Linked DNA regions of Homo sapiens: all the other regions are reported to be linked to region 1. Evidence: microRNA targets listed by miRTarBase, many of them from high-throughput screens and not tested one by one. Region 1 holds a microRNA gene; each other region holds the end of a gene's coding sequence.

Region 1 (5,125 bases):
CAGCTGTTTGTTTTTTTGAGACGGAGTCTCCTCTGTCGCCCAGGCTGGAGTGCAGTGGCTCGATCTTGGCTCACTGCAACCTCCGCCTCCTGGGTTCAAGCAATTCTTCTGCCTCAGCCTCCCGAGTAGCTGGAATTACAGGCACCCACCCAACACACCCAGCTATTTTTTGTATTTTTAGTAGAGACGGGGTTTCACCATGTTGGACAGGCTGGTCTTGAACTCCTGACCTCAGGTGATCCATCCGCCTCAGCCTCCCAAAGGGCTGGGACTACAGATGTGAGCCACAGCGCCTGGCCTGCTAACCAGCAGTTTGAAAACCTCTTTTACAGTCCAATATTTCCTTGGGTATCTAAATCTCACCTTCCCCACACCCTTTTTGTCTGCTCCAGGTCCCCTGGCCTCTGCCACCTCTTTCTTTCCCTCAAGCAGAGGAGGTCGCTGGAAGAGGAACCAGACCCCACACTTCTTGTGACCTGCTTGCCTGGGGTTTGCATTGTCTGCCACCCCTCACTCACTGGCGGGTTCTCTTGTCCCAGTTTCAGCTTTTCCTAGTGTTTCTTTTCTGTTTGGGACTGAAAATATTTATCAAGTCAACAGATATCTTTGTGTTGTTCTTAACAGTCAATAGCCATGTTTTCTTAAAGTTCTTTAAGTATGTATGTTTTCTTGTTTTAAGGAGAATGTTAGACTTATTTTTATTATTCTTATAGTCAGCGCGGGTATATTAGATAGGACAAGCATGGCGATAAGTGAACAAATAAATGAATCAGGTCAGGTGCGGTGGCTCACGCCTGTCATCCCAGCACTTTGGGAGGCCGACTGGGGCAGATCACCTGAGGTCAGGAGTTTGAGACCAGCCTGGCCAACATGGCAAAACCCCATCTCTACTAAAAATACAAAAATTAGCAGGGCATGATGGCACGCACCTGTAGTACCAGCTACTCGGGAGGCTGAGCCAGGAGAGTCGTTTCAACCTGGGAGGCAGAGGTTGCAGTGAGTTGAGATCGCACCACTGCACTCCAACCTGGGCAATAAGAGCAAAACTCTATCTCAAAAGAAATAATCAATATGAGGTTTATGTTTCTTAGTCATTATTCCTGTTCATGGCCTGACTCAGAGGCCTGGGGCAGTCGGAAAGCAGGAACTCAAGAAGCCTTTCTTGGACATGGCATCAATGCATAAATAATAATACTTATAATAATAAGTAATTGGTACTGTTCTTAGCATTTTACATATATTAACTCATTTATCTTGGCAACAACCCCACGTTGAAGATTCTATTAATGTATCCACTTTATCGATGAGGAGACAGGCTTAGAAAGGTAAAGTAGTTTGCTCAGTATCTGCAACTACAGTGCCTGGCAACTAGAAGCACCCCACTGGGTGCTCGTCCTGGCGTTTATGGCTTCTCATAAGAGAATCCCAAAGGGGAGAAGATCAGCCTGCATTTAGCAGTCCACATCTGCAGGCTGATCTTCTTCTCTTTTGGATTCTATCTCTTGCTGCTCTGATGACAAACTCTTCCAGTAGCCCAGTAGCCAGGCCATCCCCTCACTTACTATATCCACCCTATCTCTGCCTCTTGAAGCCTGACCCATCCTTCAGGGCCTTGCTCTGATGTGACTTTTACCATGAAGCCATCCCTGATCCCCCACCAAGATGGAACGACTCTCTCCCGCCTCTCTGTTCCCCAGGCAATTTGTTGGAATCTGGGTGGCAGCTAGCACCACAGTCTGCCATATTATCACTCTTTGTTCTGTGTGTGTGTGTGTGTGCACGCATGCCTGCACGCACCTGGCTTCCGTGCAAAGCCATAAGTCTTCATCGTGTTTGTGTGTGTGTGTGTGTGTGTGTGTGTGTGTGTGCATGTGCCTGAATGCACCTGGCTTCTGTACTAAGCCATACGCTTCCTGAGGGCAAGGCTTTGTCTCTGGGAATCTCTTGCAAGGAACAGGCCCACAATGAATGCTGCTGAAACAGGGAGAATGGATTGAGTCTTACTGGGAATCACCAGGGCAAGTAAATACACATATTAAAAAATAAGTATGCTGGTCCCTCAACCCCACATCCTTGGCTTTCCTGGGGACTGGAGTTTGGAACAAGGATTCAGCCTTTGACAAATGTCTAGGACTCTGTCTGCAAGGTGGGGCCGCTTGGCCAGTGGTGGAGCCACACTCCCCAGGGACCTTGTGGTCCTCTCCACTCCGGAGCCCCTCCCCGCCGAACCCCTCAACTCTGGCTGCCCCCTGCACTGAAGCGCTCAGGACCCTCCACCTCAGCAAAGCTGAGGATCCAGTCACACGGGAATGGGGTGTATGGGGAAACTGGAGCCCCCCACCCCCTTCAGGCTTCAGGTTCTGCCCTGATTATGCCTCCAATATGACTCCCAGGGAAGGCAGGGGTTGGGGGGGGGATGTGGAGACTAAGGAGGACGGGGAAGCGAGGTAGCAGAGAGGAGGGCAAAGGCAGCAGAAATAAAGGTGTGCGTGGCGGGAGGTGGCGGGGCTCGACCTCGGGCCGCTCTGGACGCCCGGCAGTGCCAGGCAGGGCCCGGGTCTGGGCGGTGGAGGACAACTTCTGCCAGCAGCCCGCCGCGAGTCCTGTCCGCCTCCCGCGCGCTGCGGTGCCCAGCCCCGCGCCAGCCCTCCCGGGGGAGCTGGAGCTTGGCCGCGCTGCTCCCCCCTGGGGCCGCTCCGGCGCCCACACCCCCCACGCCCACCGACCGGCCTCCTCACCTTCGGGACCTGGGAGTCACCGGCCGGCGGGGCCCTGGGTCCGGGCCGGGCTGGGTGGGGGCGGCGCTCTTCCCCCCACGCTAGCTGCGCCCGGGGATCTGCAGCGCCCGCCCCGGCTGCGGCGCCATCAGCTGCTGGGAGGCTGCGGGGCAGTCGGGCCGGGGCTCCGGGGGGCTCGGGGGCGCCGAAGGGGGGTCGGGGGCGGGCTCGAGGCGTAAACACCCAGCAACGTGACCGGAACTGGCGAACGAGCCGGAGGGGTGCGGGGGGCGGGAGAGAGAAAGGGGGAGGGGAGGGACCTGAGACGGGCGGGGAGGGGCCGTGGGCGGGGCGGGGGGAGGGGAGGCCGGCGGCGCGCGGTCGGGGGGAGGGGGAACCCCGGGAGCCCCGAGAGCCCCGGGAACCGGGCCTGAGGCCCCCAGCGGGCCGCTGGGCTCGCGGAGCTGGCTTTGGCTGGTAGCTGGAAGGGCAAACTGGGGAACCCGCCGGTGCCTTGGCGCGCAGGGGCGCGGCGAAGGATCAGCACCGCGGACAGCGCCCAGGCCGCCAGGCCGCGATCCGCTCCGCCCCTCCCGCCCTGGCGTAGGAAGGAGAGGCAGCGCCCGCAGCCGCGCAGGCAAGGCTTGGGGCGAAGCGCGATCTGACCAGTGGGCTGGGAATCCGTCCCGTGTCTAGGCAGCAGCAAACCTGCCCCAGACCTCTCACTAGCTGTGTGGCCTTGGGTGAGTCACATCACCTCTCTGGGCCGCAGTTGATAAGATGCCCTATTTCTAAAATTCTTTTATTATTATTATTATGCTTTAAGTTCTATGAGGGTCCCAAGAGCCAAGGGAAGATTCTTGATAAACTCCAAAGTTCAGGCCGGGCGCAGTGGCTCACGCCTGTGAGGCCAGCAGTTTGGGAGGCCGAGGCGGGCGGATCACCTGAAGTCAGGAGTTCGAGACCAGCCTGGCCAACATGGTGTATGTATCCCAATCTCTACTAAAACTACAAAAATTAGCCGGGAGTGGCGGGCGCCTCTAATCCCAGCTACTCGGAAGGCTGAGGCAGGAGAATCGCTTGAACCTGGGAGGCAGAGGTTGCAGTGGCCAAGATCGTGCCACCGCACTCCAGCCTGTGTGACAGAGCGAGACTCTATGTCAAAAACAAATAAACAAAAAAACTCCAAAGTTCAGAACACGTGCGAGGCATTGCTGTTGATCCGTTTTCACCAAACGTGGGAGGCTTCAGGAGTCCCACTGTGTGCCTCAAAAGTGTGGCTGCCCTAATATCTTCCTCCTGCCGGGGGCTTGGTCTCATCTGTAAATGAGGATAATGATGATCTATGTAGCTCATAAGATCTTCGGGTTGTTGTGAGGATTAAATGAATTCCTTCCTGTAAAGTGCTCAGAACAGTACTGCTGAGTGCTTGTTAGGCCTCTGTGCTCATGACAAGGGATGAGGTAGCATTGTGTGAGTGGCAGGTGGCTCAGAGATTGCTCTGGGTAAGTCATTCCTGTCCCTGCCTGGAGGACTGGGCTGAGTGGATTCAGGCTAATGGGTTGGTGCCTGGCTTTCCCCACTCCATGGCTAGCCAAATAATCCCTGGCCTTTCCTCCTGGACCAAATTTTCAGAGAAGCCCTGTACCTTCAGAGCTGGGAGACCCGGCACCTACTTGCCACAGAGGCCCTGGGGAGGCCTCAAGGGGCACCCTGCCTCTCTATGGGTCCCTTTCCTCCCTGTCCTCCCCACTTTCCAAAGGTTAACTGGACTCAGGTGTCAACAACTAAAAAGCTTTAGCTGCTCCTGGAAAATTCTAATCCTAAAGAGTTGCAGGGGCCAGGCTCAGTGGCTCACGGCTCTAATCCCAGCATTTTCGGAGGCTGAGGTGGGTGGATCATGAGGTTAGGAATTCAAGACCAGCCTGACCAAGATGATAAAACCCTGTCTTTACTAAAAATACAAAAATTAGTCGGGCGTGGTGGCAGGTGCCTGTAATCCCAGCTACTCAGGAGGCTGAAGCAGGAGAACCGCTTGAACCTGGGCGGCAGAGGTTGCGGTCAGCCAAGATCACACCACTGCACTCCAGCCTGGGTGATAGAGTGGGACTCCATCTCAAAACAAACAAACAAACAAACAAACAAACAGAGAGTTGCAGGAATGACTGTCTTAGGTGGCTTGACAGGCTGCGGGGTTTGAATTTTGTTCAAAGGCCTCTCAAATCCCACCCTGCAGGAACTCTAGCTACTAGCTGCACTGTGGGTGGCCCCTCTTCATCCTGTCTGAGGAAATCCTTGGGAGAGGAACAGAAAGGCCAGCCTCACCCCTCTTCCTGTCTCTTGCTGTCCTTCCTAGAGGGCAGTATTCCTGGACTGTGCTCCTTGGACCTGCATATCAGTATCTCCAG
Region 2 (5,000 bases), not on the chromosome of region 1:
ATCTGTAGGTGTCTGCTTAGCAACAAAAGGAAAGGCAGTTTCTTGCATGACTCAGCTTTCAGCTTAATTTTTTCCTTTTGACAGAGCAAATTGGGATCCTGAATTTTTATTTTTCTTTGACAACAGAAATCAACACAGATCTCTTTTAGTTACCTAATTCTTGATGGACATCAGGATGTTGACCACTTTTAGTAATATTTAATATATATCTTATTTGTTCCATTTATCCCCCGAGTATTGTAGCCACATTTAAAGTGAAAATTTCCTGTGTCAAATTAACTTTTCCAATATTTTTTGTCCATTTTTTCCATGTCTGCTTGAATTGAATTCGCTCCAGGTTTCCATTAACTTTGGACCATGCTTCAAGTATCCTCCGAAGGATCTCACTTACCGCCCTGTGAGTAACATTACAAATGGCTGCATGTGTCCTCAGCATCTCCGTGGCTGCTGTAGTCACCGTGTTCTGTTTCTCATTCCTCCTGCAGATGAGTGACATGGGCTGGGGCGCCGTGGTAGAGCACACCCTGGCTGACGTCTTGTATCACGTGGAGACAGAAGTGGATGGGAGGCGCAGTCCCCCATGGGAACCCTGACCAGGTCCCTCTTTTCTGTCAAGGACTTTCTGGGAATAATACTGGGGGTTTTGTTTTTGTTTTTGAACTGTCTCAAATGTTCTCCCAAAGATGCTAAAAACACAGCCTCTCCTTTTAGCAAGTTAAAAGGCTGGGTAGGACTGCGGGAGACTGCCTGCCTTTCACCATTTTCTCCCCACTTCCAGTGACTGCTCTTATTTTGTGTACCATAAGCCAACAACCGCTGACTCCAGGATTGCATAAGCCCCCTGTGAAATCGGTGCTGTACTGCATACCCTGCCAGCTGTGACTTGTTATCCTACTATATTTTCTAAGGAGTGAATAATATTGTCCGAGTAACTAACTTATTTAAAAGACATTTCCTTCTGTGGGCATTGACTGTATCCCACCTGTTTTCCAAGGAAATGGTAACCTGTTTCTGAGAACACCTGAAATCAATGGCTATACATTCCAAACCAATCTAAACGCTATTTCCTTTTGGTGTGGGTTTGGTTTTGTTCATTTTGAAATACACTTTTGAACACTGAGATCCGTAAAACTACTAGATCTCTGGAAGTGTAATTGTGAAAGAAACTTGCTTGCAGCTTTAACAAAATGAGAAACTTCCCAAATAAAACTTGTTTTGAAGTTTATGTGACACTTTGCTTCCCTTCAGATTGGGTGCCTCTTGGTGACAGTGTTCAGAAATGTAAGCAGCACGAGGAAGGGAGCTGGCACTGGGAGGAAGAGCCGGGTTTCTGAGTTGTGTTTTGGCTGCTTTCCTATTGCTCCCATTCTTGCCAATCAGCCACCCCCTTTCCTGTGAAAATCTGCCACCTTGAGGAGAGGAACAAGAGTTTAAAAGGGCTAATGATCTCCCTCCCGGTCTTCCCTTGGAACATGGATGTTGATATATGTGCGGGTGGTTTCCTGTCTTGCTTATCTTCCTTTGCCCTGAGCTGATGGCTAAAGGGCAGTTTTCGGACTATTAAAGACTGAAATGTAAGAATGAGCCTTCTAGGCTGGGCGCGGTGGCTCACGCCTGTAATCCCAACACTTTGGGAGGCCGAGGCAGGTGGATCACGAGGTCAGGGGTTCGAGACCAGCCTGACCAACATGGTGAAACCCTGTCTCTACTAAAAATACAAAAATTAGCCGGGCGTGGTGGCGGGCACCTGTAATCCCAGGTACTCAGGAGGCTGAGGCAGGAGAATTGCTTGAACCCGGGAGGCGGAGGTTGCAGTGAGCTGAGATCGTGCCACTGCACTCCAGGCTGGGCGACAGAGCAAGACTCTGTCTCAAAAAAAAAAAAAAAAAAAAGAATGAGGCTTCTAGGCACTGTGGCTCACACCTATAATCCCAGCATTTTGAGACATCAAAGCAGAAAGATTGCTCAAGACCAGGAGTTCAAGACCAGCCTGGGCAACATAGCAAGATCCCTTCTCAGTAAAAAAATTAGCCAGACGTGATGACACATGCCAGTAGTCCCAGCTACTCTGGAGGCTTAGGTGGGAGGATCCCTTGGGCCCAGGAGTTCGAGGCTGCAGTGAGCCATGTTTGCACCACAGCACTCCAGCTTGGGCGACAGAGCAAGACCCTGTGTCCAAAAACAAAAAACCCTTTCCTTTTGGATTCATATATAATTTCCTTATCTTCCTTTTTCTTTTCTTTCTTTTTCTTTTTCTTTTTTTTTTTTTTTTTTTTGAGATGGAGTCTTGCTCTGTCACTCAGGCTGGAGTGCAGTGGCGCAATCTTGGCTCACCGCAACCTCCGCCTCCTGGGTTCAAGCAATTCTCCTGCCTCAGCCTCCTGAGTAGGTGGGACTACAGGCACGTGCCAACACACCTGGTTAATTTTTTTTCGTATTTTTAGTAGAGACGGGGTTTCATTGTGTTAGCCAGGATGATCTCGATCTCCTGACCTCATGATCTGCCCACCTCGGCTTCCCAAAGTGCTGGGATTACAGGCATGAGCCACCACACCCGGCCTGTCTTCCTTTTTTCAATACATCAGTCTTACGGCAAAGACAGCCCTCCCAGGATTGCCCAAAGTCCCTCCTGCATTTACCTCTCTACCTCGGTTAATAAGTAGAGTGGCTCACCACTGGAGGGTGACATGCTGCTGCAGAATCACCATGTTATGCCTGTGGCTCTTCTGAATATCTTATCATTTTCCTGTTTAAGAGAGTTCCCACACTTCAAGACAATATTGGTATTTTAACATAGTAGCATTGATTAATATATTTGTCTCCCGATGAATCACCCAGACACTTTGATTTGGCCACTGCATATCTCTGAACAGGAAAGCCTATACAGGTCGAGTGTGATTGGAGGCTGAGGCTCAGCCCTAGACACCTATTAATGCGTGAACTAGTCTTCAAGGGCAGACCTGGTTATAAAGCTTCTAGATCATCGGAGTTTGAGGTACTCCAAGAAAATGAGGGTGGTGTTATTTAGAGGAAGCTGAATGTTAACTCTTTGTAATATAAATTACCACATATAAGTTGTATACACACTCTCCATCTAAATTATAAAATTAGCTTTTTGTATATATTTTCACAAATCAAAGGTTACAGGTAATGATGTTCTTCTCAAACTTCAAAAGTGTGTGTGTGTTTTAATACAGTTCATTTGAAGGGCTCAGAGAATATCTACTCTTCACAGCGTCCTATATAAAATAGTTTCTGTAATCAGATCAACAGTGATAACTTGTTTTATTCCAGTGTAAAATTAAACAAGTGGGAAAATATCTCCACAGAAACCAGAAAGACACAATTACATAGTTTGAAGGAGGCAATTAGAATCCAGCAAACCAGTGGGTTTGTTAAAAGCCTATTTCTTGACTGTCAGCCTGTTCTCTTGAAACTACAATATATGTTGCTTTAAGGTATCTTTAAACAAGTAACTATTTTCTCTTAGCTGGTAGTGGATGATAATTCCATTTTAGAAATACTTCTCTACAACTATCCTCTCTCAACTCTGAGGCTCCTAGATAAACAATAATTTTATCCATGTCAAAAATAAACTAAGAAACAATCCGAATAAATTATAATAAATACCTTTACTAGTTGTAAAATTTTAATACCTCAGGAAATACCACAGTGTTCCCACTAATGCTATTTTTTAATTTTTTAATTTAGTTTGTCATAATTTGGTTTCATCAACTCCTTTGTTTTTTCCTTCTTTTTTTTTTTTTGAGATGAGGTCTCACTATCTTGCCCAGACTGGTTTCGAATTGCCCTCCAGCAATTCTCCCACCTCAGCCTTCAGAGTAGCTGGCATTGTGGGTAGGCACCACTGTGCCCAGCTCCTGTTTTATAATAAATAAGCCAGAGCTCTATCTCCAAATGGTGCAAATCATCAATGCTATTAAAACAAGAATGGAAAAGCTTCAGGTGGTAATGGTGATTTTTTCATCCTCCCTACCCCCCTCCCATCCCAATGTGTGTGTGTGTGTGTGTGTGTGTGTGTGTGTGTGTATAATTTTTTTTTTTTTTTTAAGACAGCCTCGCTCTGTCGCCCAGGCTGGAGTACAGTGGCTCGATCTTGGCTCACTTCAACCTCCGCCTCCCGGGTTCAGGCGATTCTCCTGCCTCAGCCTCCCAAGTAGCTGGGATTACAGGCATGCACCACCACGCCCAGCTCATTTTGTATTTTTAGTAGAGATGGGGTTTCTCCATGTTAGTCAGGCTGGTCTCCTGCCCTCAGGTGATTGCCTGCCTTGGCCTCCCAAAGTGCTGAGATTACAGGCGGGAGCCACCTCACATAAATTCTCTTGACTCCTGGGAAAGGGAATTTGCTTTCACCATATTACCCCTTCTTCCAGCCACTTCTCCCAGAATACTAAACTTTTAGCCTGTTTAAGCAGAGAAGTTGCCAGCCCCAAACAAAGTTGACAGCTGTGGAATTATCTTACTACTAATTGGCATCATAAATAACAGAAATGTTAACTAATATTGTTTATCCTCTCATATTTGGCACTGCCTTTCCTTTTAATTAGGTAAATAAACAGTTATAATCTTCATCTTCCAGGGCCCATTAATCAGCTATTGCTTATAGAATTCTTTAAGAACTCATTTAGGTTATGATTATGGAAATTAAATTTTTATGAAAGATCCTGGTAACAGAGTCTAAATTATTGAATTGCATAATTTCCCAGTAGTTCCTTTCCTTTTAATGAGCCTTAATTTAGTTTGACTAATTAAAAGCTTTGTCCAGAACTCCTCTAGTGTGAAGTTGTAATCTACTAGCATAGATTTTTTTTTTTTTTTTTTTGAGATGGAGTCTCACTCTGTCGCCCACGCTGGAGCGCAGTGGCACAATCTCGGCCCACTACAACCTCCGCCTCCGGGGTTCAAGTGATTCCCCTGCCTCAGCCTCCCAAGTAGCTACGACTACAGGTTTGCGCCACCACACCCAGCTAATTTTT
Region 3 (5,125 bases), not on the chromosome of region 1:
ACCAAATTTGATTCATGCACCAGCTTTCTGTTGTGGGACAGATGAGGATATACCCGTTTTTCTTTATCCCCCACACTGTTTAGATCAGAACTTTGCACATGGTATTTGCAACTCAAATGTTGTTGAGGGACTGCGTCTTTGCAGGCAGATCTGAGCTCACAGTGGAACTGACCACTGAGTTCCCAGCCGCACCAGGCCGAGGGTCTGCTCATGAAGGTCGGAGCCCCGCCCCCAGTGTGGTTGCCTGCAGAGCCCGGTGCTCAGCCCTGATGTCTGGGAGCTGAGGCATTGCTGTGGTTTGCTTTTATTTTGGAGCCTTGTTCTTCCAGAGTGTCAAGGCAGCCCCCTGCCCTGGAGCCTCGTGGAGGGTCATGATTCATGACCTACTCAGGTTGGACGTGAGATGCCCAGAAAGGTCAGCTCCCAGTTTCAAGGGATGGAAGATACCAGGCAAGGCCTGCAGTGAAGCCCCCACACCTGGCATTGGCAGCTCCCCTTTCTGCACCCCTCCCCACATGTCCCAGCCTGGCTCATTCTCCTCATTTTGCTTTTGTGTAGAGTCCTGCTTCCTGTTCGCCCTCACGCGCCAGAAGTTGCCACCCTTTTGCCAGCAGGGGTACCTGAGGATGCAGGGACTCGTGAGTACCGAGAGCCTTTGGCAGCACAGAGTGGAGAGCAGGCTCCTGCGGGACTATGCCCCCACAGGCAGGCGCCTGGAGGACAGCAGCCAGCAGCTTGGCGACCAAGAGCCACTAGGTTCCCCCCTGGCTCCAGGGCCTCTGGCTCAGTCCGTCGATAGCAACAAAGAGGAGCTCTGACTGTCCCTTCCTAAGCTGTGGGCACAGTGGCCAGGCCTCCCCACCTAGGCCCATGGTCAGTCCCTCTTTCCCCGCAACCTCACACTCCCGCCAATGCGTGATTGCCAAAGACCACTCAGATCATGGCAGTGTCTGCAGCAAAGCCACCAGATGGCACGTGAGGGCTGAAAGTCGGGGATGCGGTGGTCTCCTCCCTCCTGTCAGGGGGCAGAAGGGCATCCTCTGCCAGGTGGGAGCTGCCTTCCCCAGCCCAGTTTGTCTGCAATGGAGCTGTCGCTGAGCCCCAGGCCAGCCCAGTTCTGCCCCGTCTCAAGTGCTCCTCTTCCTTCCAAGCCCCTCCTCAGATGGGCCTGCATCCCGCCTGTGGAGTGCTTCACAGGGGAAACCCATCCGCATCTTAAGAGTTTGTGGCAAGCGCTTTAAAACAAAAGCTCTGATATCCTCAACAACCACAATGGGCAGGTGGGATTGTTGCCCCAGATGACTGCTGAAGACACCAGCTGTGGGATGTCAAGTAATTCCAGGGACCCCCAGCTGGGAGTCCCCGTCTGTGTCACTTGCCACACACTGCCTCAACCTCCCCGCCCCATTTTCAGCAGGGTTTGGGCTTAGCTACAGAGCCCAAGAGGGTCAGCCCTGCTTATCATCATAGGCCCAGCAGGCTGATCTCGAGCAGCGATAGGACAGCTCCCTGCAAAGCCATCTTAGCAACTTTCTCACTGAGAAGCAGGATTCAGAGCTGCTCTCCCCAGTTGCACCCCCTGACTCATCTTCCAGCTGGCTCTTCTCTCCCATCCTACTCCCTTCTGTCTCCCTGCCCTCTGCCATCCTGAACCATGCCTTGCTTCTAACCTGCCTGGTCAAGTTTTGTGAAACTTATCCTGCTGTCTCGGGCTGGCACCCATATGTGCTCACCATGTGTAAGGTGACATTTCCAAATGCCTTTGTGTGATAATGATGATGAATTTGGTTCCTAGTCTCTTCTTCATTGCCCTTCCTCACCAGCAATCTGCACTTTCCCATCAGGCGTCTTAGTCTCATTTGTAAGTGCATAAGATAATCACAGTGATTTTTCAAAGCCCAGGATCATAAGTGATTGCTTTTTCACTGGTTCTTACTAACTCTTCATGTATCCACTCAGAATTCCAAGGACAATCCCAGCACTCTGGGAGGCCCAGGCAGGTGGATCACCTGAGGTCAGGAGTTTGAGACCAGCCTGACCAACATGGAGAAACCCTATCTCTACTAAAAATACAAAACTAGCCAGGCGTGGTAGCACATGTCTATAATCCCAGCTACTGGAGAGGCTGAGGCAGGAGAATCACTTAAACCCGGGAGGCAGAGGTTGCAGTGAGCCGAGATTGCGCCATTGCACTCCAGCCTAGGTAACAAGAGGGAAACTCCATCTCAAAAAATAAGTTAATTAAATTAAATTAAAATAAAACATGCGCTGGGTACAGTTGCTTACACCTGTAATCCCAGCACTTTGGGAGGCCAAAGTGGGCCGATCACCTGAGCTCAGGAATTCGAGACCAGCCTGGCCAACATAGCAAAACCTTGTCTCTACTAACGGTAAAAAAAATTAGCTGGGCATGGTGGAGCATGCCTGTCATCCCAGCTACTTGGGAAGCTGAGGCAGGAGAATTGCTTGAACCTGGGAGGTGGAGGTTGCAGTGAGCAGAGACCGAGCCACTGTACTCCAGCCTAGGTGACAAAGCAAGACCCACAGTAAAGCCCCCACACCCCATCTCAAAAAAATAAAAAATAAAAAAGAACAAAGTATGCTACAACAAAAGTGAAAAGAGAAAAAGAATTCCAAGAACCCGGGCTTTCTGGATCCAAAGCTCTTTCATGGGGACGTCCTCTTCCCCTCTTGGCTTGGTCCAGACTTTTTCTTTTTCTTTTTTTTTTTTTTTGCAATGGATTTCGCTCTTGTCACCCAGGCTGGAGTGCAATGGCACGATGTCGGCTCACTGCAACTTCTGCCTCCCGGGTCTAAACAATTCTCTTCCCTCAACCTCCCAAGTAGCTGGGATTACAAGCGCCTGCCACCACGCCCAGCTAATTTTTGTATTTTTAGTAGAGACAGGGTTTCACCACATTGGCCAGGCTGGTCTCGAACTCCTGACCTCAGGTGATCCACCTGTCTTGGCCTCCTAAAGTGTTGGGATTACAGGCATGAGCCACCACGCTCGGCCCAGTCCAGACTTTTTAACTACCTGGCCCCACTGCAGACACAGTTCCCTCTAGTCCTTCCCAGAGTTACAAGAAGAGAACTCCAGTAGCCTTATTCTGTCAGGGACGAATTGTTTACCCCATGATAATGTAGGATATCATAAATTCTTCTTCAAAGGTTTTAGCCTGTAATTTGTTAAGTACATTGAGTTCTGAGATCCTCTCCAAAGAACCAATGTATCAGTATGTTCAGCTCACCTGTTCTTTGTTCTTCATTTTAACTTTTAATTTCCTCATTCTTTATGTCTCCTTGCCCCTAGTTTCAGTAAACAATCCCCTCCTAGCCTCTGTCACCTGCTCTGACCTGAGTCACCTTTAGTCACCTGGTCCGTAACCATCTTTCCTGTCTAAACTTCTCACCCCACCACTCTGGCTTATACCCCTGCTCTCTTTAAAATAGCCAGTCAGAATTAGCTTAGATTGTGCGGTCCAACCCTAGCCCATAGGGGAACAACACAGCAGTAGGGGGTACCTGCATCAGGGATAAGAACCCATTCCCCTCCCTTGTTCCGGTGTGCTCTCGCCATTGCACCATCCATGAGACGCACTCTTGTATAGAAGTAAAATTGCCTTGCTGAGAAAATGTATGTTTGAGTGCTATTTCTTTTGTGGCACTGAAAATTTATTTCTAACAAATTTGGGGTCTCATTTGGGATTCCCATCCTCCTCTGAGGAGGGTCTAGACCTCTCCCATGAGGAGGCACGTCCCACTGCCTTGTTGCGGTGGCCACAGGGGTAAGGAATCGAGACCAACCAGTGTGACGAATAAACCTATACTCTCAGCAAGGCAGAAAGAAACGGGCTGGCGACCTGGGGGAAAGGATCCTCATGTACCACAGCGACCAAGTAAGTGTGCAGAGACCAAGCTAAGAAACATCGCAGGGGTGACAAAGTATTTCCTTGGTGGTCAGGATATTCTGGGGGTTGAAAGTGTGCATGAATGCAAGGAGCCTCCAGCAGGTGGGGCTAAAGGATAGGCGAGACATCTCCAACAGGGGAGATTGAGCTTAACCAGGACCCAAGATGGGAAATGCCCCAAGTAAGGTAAGAGATAAAAAGGAGAAAGCTAGCAACAGTAATATTCCCCCAGGCCTAATGTTAAAATGTTAGAAGGATAATGAAAGGACCAAAAACAAAAGCAGCTGCTGTCCCAGACCCTTCTCCTATCTCTGATGTCCCCTTTCTTACAACCCTGCCTCTTGAGAATCGTCCCAAGAGCCCACTCACTACCGACCTAAGTACCTTTCCCTTAAAGGACTTCAACGTGAGATAGAGCAATGTAAAAAAGATATTCAGAATTTCCCTTTCCCCTCTTCTCGGGGGAAGAAAGAGACATGATCCATAGAGCTGCTATGGGAGCCTAGGAACACGAACACCCTCCTGGCCAAAACGTTCCTACAGCAGATCAAAAAACTCCCACCCAAGACCCCCAGTGGGACAATAACAACGCAGCCCACCGAGAAAATATGCAGGACCTTAAGGAATTGATAATAAAGGGGATTAAAGCATCAGTACCCCGAGGCTGGGCGCAGTGGCTCACGCCTGTAATCCCAGCACTTTGGGAGGCCGAGGCAGGCAGATCACAAGGTCAGGAGATCGAGACCATCCTGGCCAACACAGTGAAACCCCGTCTCTACTAAAAAATACAAAAAAATTAGCTGGGCATAGTGGCAGGCGCCTTTAGTCCCAGCTACTCAGGAGGCTGAGGCAGGAGAATGGCGTGAACCCAGAAGGCGGAGCTTGCAGTGAGCCGAGATCACGCCACTGCACTCCAGCACTCTAGCCTGAGCAACAGAGCAAGGCTCCATCTCAAAAAAAAAAAAAAAATTGGTACCCCGAACTCAGTATCTTACCCGAATATTTGATATACAGCAAGGGAAAGATGAAGGGCCTATAGAATTTTTAGATAGATTAAAGGAACAAATGAGAAAATACACTGGTCTAGGTCTCAAGGATCCTCTTGGGCAGGGAATGTTAAAACTTCATTTTGTCACTAACAGTTGGCCAGATATTAACAAGAAATTACAAAAGATAGAGAACTGGAAAGATAAACCTATAGAAGAGCTTCTAAG
Region 4 (5,125 bases), not on the chromosome of region 1:
TGCTCATGGCAGCTACCCATGCTGTCTACGGCAAGCTGCTCCTCTTCGAGTATCGTCACCGCAAGATGAAGCCAGTGCAGATGGTGCCAGCCATCAGCCAGAACTGGACATTCCATGGTCCCGGGGCCACCGGCCAGGCTGCTGCCAACTGGATCGCCGGCTTTGGCCGTGGGCCCATGCCACCAACCCTGCTGGGTATCCGGCAGAATGGGCATGCAGCCAGCCGGCGGCTACTGGGCATGGACGAGGTCAAGGGTGAAAAGCAGCTGGGCCGCATGTTCTACGCGATCACACTGCTCTTTCTGCTCCTCTGGTCACCCTACATCGTGGCCTGCTACTGGCGAGTGTTTGTGAAAGCCTGTGCTGTGCCCCACCGCTACCTGGCCACTGCTGTTTGGATGAGCTTCGCCCAGGCTGCCGTCAACCCAATTGTCTGCTTCCTGCTCAACAAGGACCTCAAGAAGTGCCTGAGGACTCACGCCCCCTGCTGGGGCACAGGAGGTGCCCCGGCTCCCAGAGAACCCTACTGTGTCATGTGAAGCAGGCTGGTAGGCAGACAGGCAGAGAGAAGGTCATGGCCACCGTGATGGGGCCAACAGCAAGGGAGGGGTAGGGGCCCATACAGGAGTCCTCCTTTCTGAGCTCCAGCCCCAGCCCCTCGAACCACCTGTAATCTAGGCACCTTTGCCAACACCTCCCAAGGATGGAGGACTGGGCGAGGGACTGGGAAAGAGGCATATTTAGTTTTGTGGGGCCTGTCTCCGCTGCCTCCTTCTCCACTTCTACAATCTCATTCTCTCTCTCTCTCTCTCTGTCTCTCTCTCTCTCTCTCTCTCTCTCTCAGAAGTGACAATTCAGAAAAAGAAAAGAACACTGAGAATGCAGGTTTTTCTACTAACAGCTGAGGAGACAGGCTTTCTTACTTTAATGTCTCTCCTTCTGACACTGTCCAGAAGGGGGAATTTGTCCTGTAAAATAGACTTCCAGAGCTCTTTTGCCCCCTCTGCTCCCATGCACCCTCCCCTTCCAAGTCCTTTAGCAAGGCCTGGATGTTTAGGGAGAAAGTGGTCCAAGGCTGCTGACAAGAGGGACCAAAGGGGGTGCTGGGTTCCCAGGGAGCAGGGATGTTTAATTACTATGTCATGTGCAATGTTGTTTTAGGCCAACCCTTGCCCCAAGCCCAGTCTCTTCTCCCTCCCCACCATGTCCAGACCTCCCAAATGGTTCTTGTGCATCTGTTGGAGAAGTCAAGGGAGTAGGGAGAAGGGCCCCAAGGATGGGCCCAGGTTAGGTGAAGAGTAAGATGTGAGCTGAACTCCTCGAACTGAAGAGACCCACACTTGGTCACATTCTCTCACGCTGCCTTCAGGATCCCCAGCCCCCAACTCTTCTTCCTGAGGATGGAAATCCACTCCAGCCCCACTAGGACTGATGTGGGTGCCATACAGGCAGGAGCAGCCCACCAGGAAAGTGTAAGGAGGGAGCTGAACTCCCCAGAGTAGCTGGACCACAGAGACTTGGGTCAGAGCTGATTTCAACCCCAGAATTGTCTCTCGGGTTCACCCTACTCTTCTGAAGATGAAAATTTGTTTGGGGCCTTGGTAACCGATAGCGGTACAAACTCCAAGGCACTGTGGACTTGAGTCCATTCCTATCTGACCTCTTTTTGTCCCCCTCAAGCCTCAGGGGCCTCAAGCCCCTCCTTAGTAGCCCTTGGCTGACTGGGCCCTGAGCCCCAAGCATCCTTCTTTCCCAACAACCCTCCTTCCCCATCCTTCCCCCACCCTTACCTACACCCAAAGTGGAGCACACTGCAGTCAGATTCTCCAGGAGGGAGATCCAAGCCTCCTCCCAGGGGTGGAGTCCACTCTGGGCTTACTTTGAGGCCTGTTCTGTGGATTGGTGAGCCAAGCTGGCACTCCTTGCCCTGGTCTTACCCAGGCTCTCTGTCCCCCTCTCACTTCCTGTGGGGCCGGAATCTGTATTTATCCATCCCCCTTTCCCTTCTTTATAGAAGTCCCTGTCCTAAACTCCCTCCCTAGCCCAAGAGAGCCCCAGAACTGGGGAAGCCTGACCCATACAGAATGGGGAGGGCACTCTAGGCAGGAGAGACATTAATGAGCCTGGCTGCAGAGTGGCCCTGGAAAGGCAGGCCAGAGTGGCTGAGAGGCTGGGAGTAGGGGAGCCTGTTCTCTCAGCGATAGTGATGGGGGTGCCTTTCCGAGGGGGTGGGGTGGGAAGACCAAGGGGGTGGGGGGTAGATAGGGTACATTTAGGAGGGTTTTCCTCCATTTCTTTTTTCTAACTGCCTGGATTCACCATTGGATTTTGTAAATGGAAAAACTGAAATGAACAATGCTATACTGGATGTTTTCTCTTTCTGACTGTGTGTGTGTGTGTGCGTGCGTGCGTGCATGTGCCCTGTCTGACCACATGTGGAGAGACATGATTGAGTGATAGTGTGTGTCTGTGTGACTTTGTGTGGGGAGGCACTCCTGAAGAAAACTTGCCCGGTGCACACACGTAAAATGCCTGTATATGGGGACAGATACAGCACGTGCATGCATACACACACACACACACACACCACAGTTGAGAGGAGACAAACTAGAGTATGTGCCCGTGGTAGGAAGTCGAGTGGTCAAGAGATGGATCTTGGAAACTACATAGGTCGGTAGCAAGAGGGTAGACTCCCATCTCACAAGATGGGCCTCCCTTGGCCCAGGCCCTGAGCACGGGAGGGCTGGGGCCGCCAGGGAACTTGAAAACCTCATCTCCTCACAAAGCCTGTAGCCCCATCTCAACCCCGTCTCAGTCTCCTTCCCAAACTCAAACAAGGTGTTCCTAAAATTGGACCACCATGGAGAATGGGGACTGGGAATTGAGGATCAAATGTGAGGGAAACTGATGAGGTTAGGAAATGCCCCCCACAAAGTAATGGCTTCTGGAGGGACTGCTCAGTCTGGGATGGGAGCCCTTCCTAGGGGCCACTGTATGCAGCTGGGACTTTGGTCAGCTTTGACCAAATTTAGAGGGAGGGATGTCATGGGGAAAAAAAACCCAAGCCCAGGAGTCTACCCAGCCAGCCTGCTCCCTAGACAGTTAATTTACTATCTGGTTATTCTCTCAGGTGCACAGAATTGAGTTGACCATACTCCTCAGTTCTTGGCACACTATATCATCATTGGTCCATGTGAGGCCCTTTTATTTTTTTTTCTTCAGTTTTGTCCCCTTCATCACCCATTCCTGATCCCATCCTCCCCGCCCCCTACACAGGCACCCACTCTCGTGTATTTAACGTACGTCCTTCCAATCCACCGTTCATGTGTTTATTTACATATATGTGTATCTGTGAAAAATGTATGGTATTGCTGTGTGTTTTAATTTACATAAACAGTATTGTACTATAAATCTTGTTGTTTCTTTTTTCACTCAACATTCTGTCTTTGAGAGATCCAGCCATGTTGCCGTATATAGATCTAATTCATTCTAGTGGTCCATCTAAAACATATATCACATTTTTCTTATCCACTCCCCTGATGATGGATCCCTAGGTCTCCTCTCTGCTCCGCGACAAGGCTGCAATGGGCAGTTACCTACACCTCTCTTGAGGGATGCCTAATTTAGGGGAGAGAAAACTGAAGCTCAGAGAGGGGCAGTGATTTGGTTAAGGTTACAAAATGAGGGGCACACCCATGATGTGAATCCCAGCACCAAAGCCAGCCCTCCACCACCATGCCTCACAAAAGACCATCCATCTCTGGTTTAAAAAGAAAAATCTTAAAATACAGCATACACTGGGGAAAGGGAGAGGAAAGGATGGAAAGGGGGAGAAATGAAGAGACAGAAAGTGCTAGAAAATTCTAGCAGATGAGCTGAATCACAATCATTTTTATGACGCAGAGGAAGTTACTTTTTTGTGTGTGTGATTATTATTTGTAGAGCCATTTTGCGGAGATGGAAAACGCCACGTCAAAACCTGGCCCCCAAACCAAACACCCTGGGTGCCTAAATTGCAGGCGCAGGCGGTAGGGCAGCCCGAGCCCCCGAGGAGCTACAGCAGAGTTCACCCAGGGGGCAAACGTGGGGGGTGGGGGAAGGGGCAGAAGTGGAAGGTAGGAAAAGAGGCAGAAGCGGGGGGGCGGGGGGCAGGGGTTGTGTGAGGGAAGGGGCAGAAGTTGGGGGATAGGGGAAGGGCAGAAGCGGAGGGCGGGAGGGTGAGGGAAGGGGCAGAAGTGGGGTTGGGGGGTGAAGGAAGGGGCAGAAGTTGGGGGATAGGGGAAGGGGCAGAAGTGGGGGTGAGGGAAGAGACAGTTGGGGGATGGGGGTCAGAAGCAGGGAATGCGGGAAGGGGCAGAAGGGGGGGTGAGGGAAGGGGCAGAAGCGGGGGAGGAAGGGGCAGAAGCGGGGGGTGAAGGGGCAGAAGCGGGGGTGGGGTGGGGGAAGGGGCCGAAGCGGGGGATGGGGGAAGGGGCAGAAACGGGGGGTGGGGGAAGGGACAGAAACGGGGAGTGGAGGAAGGGGCAGAAGCGGGGATGGAAAAAGGGGCAGCAGTGGGGGATGGGAGAAGGGGCAGAAGCGGGGGTGGGAGAAGGGGCAGGAGCTGGGATGGGGGAAGGGGCAGGACCCGGGATGGGGGAAGGGGCAGAAGCGGGGGTGGGGGAAGGAGCTGAAGGAAATGGGGGAAGGGGCAGATTTTAAAAGTGCGTAGTTGCTGAGGGGAGGGGGGCGGGGGGAACGATAACGAGGCTCTTCCAATTTCATGTGAGCACATCCTGCTCAGCGCCTGCGTTTGTTTTTCGTCTCGTTTTTTGGTCTTCAGAACCACTGGTACTTTTCCCATTGGATAAAACGCTGAGAGGGTGAGGGAGAGGGGCTTCTTCCCCAGCTTTCCTCGCAGCCAATCGCCCTGCAGTTTCCCTCCCGTCGCTGAGGGAGTCAGCCCGTTGATTGGCGGGCCCGAGGGGAGCCAATCGGAAACTGATGATGTGTGGTGTTGGCAAGCGGATTGCGTGAGAGCGGGCAGGGGTCGCGGGAGCGCGATCGCCGCCGCGGCGGCCGGCAGCCAATGGCCAGGCCGAGCGGACCCCTGCGTCAGGAGTGGGCGGGGCTTCGGCGATTGGCG
Region 5 (5,125 bases), not on the chromosome of region 1:
GGCTGCCGCTCCGGGCCTACAAGCTGGCGACGCTGGCCCTGGCGCAGCTCAGCATCGCCTTCAACCAGGACAGCCACCCTGCCGTCAACGACGTGCTTTGGGCCTGCTCTCTCAGCCACTCCCTGGGCCGGCACGAGCTCTCTGCCATCGTCCCCCTCATCATTCGCAGCATCCACTGTGCCCCAATGCTGTCCGATATTCTGCGCCGCTGGACTCTCTCGGCGCCCGGTCTGGGCCCCTTAGGGGCACGCCGGGCCGCCAAGCCACTGGGTGCCGACCGGGCGCCGCTCTGCCAGCTCCTGGACGCGGCAGTCACCGCCTACATCACCACCAGCCACTCGCGCCTCACGCACATCAGCCCGCGGCACTATGGGGATTTCATCGAATTCCTGGGCAAGGCCCGGGAGACCTTCCTGCTGGCGCCCGACGGGCACCTCCAGTTCTCACAGTTCTTGGAGAACCTCAAACAGACCTACAAGGGCAAGAAGAAACTCATGCTTTTGGTGCGGGAGCGTTTTGGTTGAGGGACAGTGGGGTGCGTGGGAGTGGGGATCCCCCTCGCCCCTGCGTCCCCCACCCTTGCTCTCCAATTAGGCCCACGTGGCATTTCAGTATTATTAAGTCAGGGAAGGAGCCCGGCTGGAGATGGGGGCAGGGGGAGCAGCATCCTGCCACGTGTGTGCCTGGGAGTCTGTGAGCAAGTGTGCAAGACTCCAGAAGCAGAAGCCATACTGCCACCCAGAAGCCTGGAAGGGGTGTGTGCTTGGGCTGCTGGTATGACCCCACTTTGGGCACCCCAAAAGCAATAGGCAAACTCCCCTTACCCAGACTGGCTTGGGCTCCAGGAGGGAGGCTGGGAGGCAGGACTTTCCAGAAATCGACCCTCTAAGTCAATGTAGCACATTTTCCCCCAACCCCACCCTGGGTGGCCAAGGGTCCTCCCCCACCCCCTACTGCTCAGGGCCCCCCATTATGCCACCTCCAAAGTGGCTGCCCAGCCAGGACCATTGGCTCACCCCCACTGAAGGAATTGAAGAGGCCTCAGGCCTCAGCCTCATACCTCACCCCCTTATCCTATCCGGCCAGGACCCCCATTTCCTTGGGCACTAGGGTCCCAGGGTGGGCTCAGGGTTGGGGAAGTCCTCGCTGCCCTCTCTTCTCACCTGCTAGTCACTGGACGTACAACTCAGGAACTGAGCGAGGCTCACACTGCCCCTTCCAACCTGGGGTTGGGGGACACAGACGCGAGAGAGCCGGAGACCCCCACCCCCGATCTGGAAAGGAAAGAGACCTGTATCTTGGTGTTTTTCTGGCTTTTTCACCCTTTCGCCTCCTGTCTTTCTGCTTCGCCCCTTCATCTTACTCTGTTTCCATTTTTCCCGGCACTTACCTGCCTTTCTCTCTGCACCTAAGTCCCTGCCGCCCTCTCTCTTTGGCCATCCTTCCTTTCCCCCACCTTGACCCAGGGAGGAGAAGGGAGAACATCACCCCCCCAAGTCACCCCCACATCTTTTCCCTTCTTGTATATTAAGGACAAAATACCACATCATTTTGTAACTTTTTTTCTATTTATTGAACGGTGTATTACATGTCCTTTTCCTTTTTTTTTTTCAAAGATTGAACAGAAATTTTTCTTTTTAATTTTATTTTGAGACTGGGGTGCATCTCCAGAGCCACTCACACCCTCAACCTCGTTTCCTCCGCAAAAAAAAAAAAAAAAAAAAAAAATGTCTGGCCTTATTTCTGGGTGCAGCGCCAAGCGAGGGGTGGGATGGGAGCGACTGCTGGCTTCATTCCATGGTAATTATGTAAATATTTCCCTTTTTTTTTTTTTGGTCTTTCTCTGTTGCCCAGGCTGGAGTGCAGTAGCGCGATCTGGGCTCACTCCAACCTCCACCTCCCGGGTTCAAGCGATTCTCCTGGCTCAGCCTCCCAAGTAGCTGGGATTACAGGCATGCGCCACCACACCGGGCTAATTTTTGTATTTTTTAGTAGAGACGGGGTTTCACCATGTTGGCCAGGCTGGTCTCGAACACCTGACCTCAGGTGGTCTGCCCGCCTCAGCCTCCCAAAGTGCTGGGATTACAGGCGTGAGCCACCGCACCCGGCCTTATGTAAATATTTCAAAACAGAGATGGACAGCTCACCATGAGGGAACACAGGGCTGAATGCGTTACCGCTGTCATTTAATCGTCACCACAGCCCTATGAGTTGGTAGGATTATCTTTTCCATTTTACAGATGAGAAAACTGAGGTTGCAAAGTGGAAAGAAAGGGCACCCAGCGGCCGGGCGCGGTGGCTCACGTCTGTAATCCCAGCACTTTGGGAGGCCGAGGCGGGCGGATCACGAGGTCAGGAGATTGAGACCATCCTGACTAACACGGTAAAACCCCGTCTCTACTAAAGATATAACAAAAAATTAGCCAGGCGTGGTGACGGGCGCCTGTAGTCCCAGCTACTAGGGAGGCTGAGGCAGGAGAATGGCGTGAACCCTGGAGGTGGAGCTTGCAGTGAGCCGAGATCGCCCCACTGCACTCCAGCCTGGGCGACAGAGCGAGACTCCGTGGGTGGGGGGCAGGGGGGAAGGGCACCTAGCTAGGACGTTTGATTTAGGACCTGGTTGGGGCCACTGACCCCTGCCCACCCCTGACTGCAGGGTCCTTGAGCCCCTAGGAAGGGCCAAGATGGGGGTGGGGGGCGCCCTGGCTCCAGACACCAATGTTGGGGGTCCTTGTCTCCAAATTGCTGAGCATGGGAGGCTGTGGCAGGTGTTGGTGCAGCTGGATGGGGAAGACACCCCGATCAAAAGCGGGAACCCCGGGTTTAGACTCGACCTCGGTGGGCGGGGCTCTGGCCAAGAGAAGAAAAACGGAGTGGGGGTGGTCTGTGCGTGGACACTCGCCAGGGGACGTGGCCAGGGCGTGTCTGGGATCTTGCGCCACTGAAGAGGCTCCCAGTCGTCAAATAGAGTGAGGGATGGGATCCAAAGGACGGCGAGAAAGCCCGTGGTTGTCTAAACGTCCCTGGCTCCCCGAGAAGCAGTTTCCTCGGGGCCTTCCTGCCTTTTGGATGAATGGAGATGCTGTGTCTGGGTCACTGCCAGAGCCGGGGCAGGAGAGGACAGAGGCTTCCCGGAGCGGCAGGGCCCGTCGCTAGAGGGCGGGGCCCGCAGTCGGGGGCGGGACTTTGGCGGCGCTGTGCATGGGGATTGGCTTTTCGCACCGCCCCTCCGCTCGAGTGGGCCAATCGGAGACGGCCCCACCTCCTGCCCCGCCGCGCGTATTCCAGCAGGTATGTGCGGGCGGACCCGGGACTGCCCCGCGCGCTCCGTGGCGCCGCCTCGAGGTCTGGGACGGTGGAGGTGGGTGGAGAGCCCGGAGTGCACCCCTTGTGGTCCCTGCCGCCTTCGGACCTGGGGGACCCTTTACTGTGCCCCTCAGGTGTCACCCACGAATGTTCCCATGTTCCTGGGGCGTCACGCAGGTCCCAGCCACATCCAAATGTCCCCCCTTAAGAACTGGGGTTTCCTTCATGTCACATCCCTCAAACCCAAGTTCCCCTCCAGCATTCTCAGATACCAGGCACCCCAAATCTTCCCCTGAGGCCTGAGTAATCCCGTAGGTCCAAGTTGCCCCCAAATGTCACTAGCTCAAGACCCTCAGATCCTGGTTATCGCCACATGTCACCCCTCAGGCTCAGCGTTTCCCTCAGGGTCACCCCACCACCACCACTTCAGATCAGCTTCCATCCTCCCTTGATCAGCGATGTGAAAATCTTTCCACTCTAGGGTTTCCCTCATGGTCACCCCACGATCCAGGACACCCCCAAGGTCACCTTTCCAAGCACAGGATACCCTGCTGCACAGAGCAGGTGGGGCAGGGATGGGCAGGCAGGAGCCCGGAGTGCCAGGATGGTAAATTCAGGCCAATCAAAAGCTGAAACTCCAGCGATGGGAGGCAGGAGTGAATCACAGACCAGACCTTCAGGAATGAAGTCAGGGCAACTTTTATTTACTTGAACAACAGACATGACACACAGCACGATCTCTCCTCTCCATCCCATCCCAAGCTTCTGTCCACGACTACCCAGGGTGGGGAAAAAGGCAATGGCCCAGCCCCGATGACCTGGGGGACTTCAGTGTGCCTCCTCAGTCCCACCCAGAAAAAAGCCTCCTCCCATCTGATTTCAAGATAGTGGAGAAAAGCCAGGCACGGTGGCTCACACCTGAGCCACCTGTAATTCCGGCGCATTGGGAGACTAAGGTGGGAGGATGGCTTGTGGCCAGGAGTTCGAGAACAGCCTGGGCAACATAGTGAGACCTGCCCCCCCATCTCTACAAAAATTAAAATTAAAAAAATTAGCCAGGTGTGGTGGCGCATACCTGTAGTCCCAGCTCTACTGGGGAGGCTAAGGCAGGAGGATCACTTGTGCCCAGGAATTCAAGGTTGCAATGAGCCATGATCACACCAGCCTGGCCAAGATGGTGAAACCCCGTCTCTACTAAAAATACAAAGATTAGCCGGGCATGGTGGTGGGTGCCTGTAAGCCCAGCTACTCAGGAGGCTGAGGCAGGAGAATCGCTTGAACCCAGGAGGCAGAGGTTGCAGTGAGCCAAGATCACACCACTGCACTTCAGCCTGGGCAACAGAGTGAGACTCCGTCTCAAAAACAAACAATAAAAGGCCAGGCACGGTGGCTCACAGCTGTAATCCCAGCACTTTGGGAGGCTAAGACGAGCAGATTGCTTGAGGTCAGGAGTTCAAGACCAGTCTGGGTAACATGGCGAAACCCCGTCTCTACAAAACATAAAAAAAAATTGGCCGGGCGCAGTGGCTCATGCCTGTAATCCCAACACTTTGGGTGGCTGAGGCGGGCAGATCACCTGAGGTCAAGAGTTCGAGACCAGCCTGGCCAACATGGCGAAACTCGGTCTCTACTAAAAATACAAAAATTAGCCAGGTGCGGTGGTGTGCACCTGTAATCCCAGCTACTTGGGAGGCTGAGGCAGGAGAATCGTGTGAACTGGGGAGGTGGAGGTTGCAGTGAGCCGAGATCGAGCCATTGCACTCCAGCCCGGGTGACAGTGCGAGACTCCATCTCAAAAAAAAAAAAACAAAAAAAAAAA

The links. The annotated mature microRNA hsa-miR-1253 reads AGAGAAGAAGAUCAGCCUGCA and lies in region 1 at 1,467-1,487, opposite strand. An mRNA with a match to its seed (bases 2 to 7 or 8) in the 3' UTR can be bound and repressed. Matches are read on the target gene's strand: a 7mer-m8 pairs with bases 2 to 8, a 7mer-A1 pairs with bases 2 to 7 and ends in A, and an 8mer does both.
Region 2: the mRNA of ASH2L is a reported target of hsa-miR-1253. The part of its 3' UTR that is shown has no 7-base or 8-base seed match.
Region 3: miRTarBase lists FOXRED2 as a target of hsa-miR-1253. Seed matches in the 3' UTR shown: 7mer-m8 at 1,601-1,607 and 7mer-A1 at 3,406-3,412.
Region 4: miRTarBase lists GPR173 as a target of hsa-miR-1253. Seed matches in the 3' UTR shown: 7mer-m8 at 1,187-1,193.
Region 5: the mRNA of ZSWIM4 is a reported target of hsa-miR-1253. Seed matches in the 3' UTR shown: 8mer at 1,155-1,162.

Annotation. Positions count from the first base shown.
Region 1 is chr17:2,746,673-2,751,797 of GRCh38, forward strand. It overlaps MIR1253 (microRNA 1253), which reads right to left and starts at 1,510; the gene lies at 1,406-1,510. It overlaps CCDC92B (coiled-coil domain containing 92B), which reads right to left and starts at 2,980. Exons shown (of 4, transcript NM_001355573.2): 1 at 2,739-2,980. RefSeq lists a silencer at 3,170-3,359.
Region 2 is chr8:38,138,479-38,143,478 of GRCh38, forward strand. ASH2L (ASH2 like, histone lysine methyltransferase complex subunit) reads left to right here. Exons shown (of 16, transcript NM_004674.5): 15 at 338-397; 16 at 486-1,602. The coding sequence ends at 593. STAR (steroidogenic acute regulatory protein) reads right to left here. Exons shown (of 7, transcript NM_000349.3): 7 at 4,222-5,000. Among named protein-coding and RNA genes, the nearest start is that of STAR, 10 kb to the right of the region's middle. RefSeq lists a silencer at 1-7.
Region 3 is chr22:36,485,701-36,490,825 of GRCh38, reverse strand. It overlaps FOXRED2 (FAD dependent oxidoreductase domain containing 2), which reads left to right. Exons shown (of 9, transcript NM_001102371.2): 9 at 559-3,636. The coding sequence ends at 818. Among named protein-coding and RNA genes, the nearest start is that of TXN2, 6.6 kb to the right of the region's middle.
Region 4 is chrX:53,077,205-53,082,329 of GRCh38, forward strand. It overlaps GPR173 (G protein-coupled receptor 173), which reads left to right. Exons shown (of 2, transcript NM_018969.6): 2 at 1-3,411. The coding sequence ends at 539. Among named protein-coding and RNA genes, the nearest start is that of TSPYL2, 2.6 kb to the right of the region's middle. RefSeq lists an enhancer at 386-445 and a silencer at 5,028-5,125.
Region 5 is chr19:13,830,527-13,835,651 of GRCh38, forward strand. ZSWIM4 (zinc finger SWIM-type containing 4) reads left to right here. Exons shown (of 14, transcript NM_001367834.3): 14 at 1-1,728. The coding sequence ends at 524. MIR23AHG (miR-23a/27a/24-2 cluster host gene) reads right to left here. Exons shown (of 1, transcript NR_036515.2): 1 at 3,990-5,125. Among named protein-coding and RNA genes, the nearest start is that of MIR24-2, 3.3 kb to the right of the region's middle. RefSeq lists enhancers at 2,898-2,947, 2,998-3,047 and a silencer at 3,158-3,347.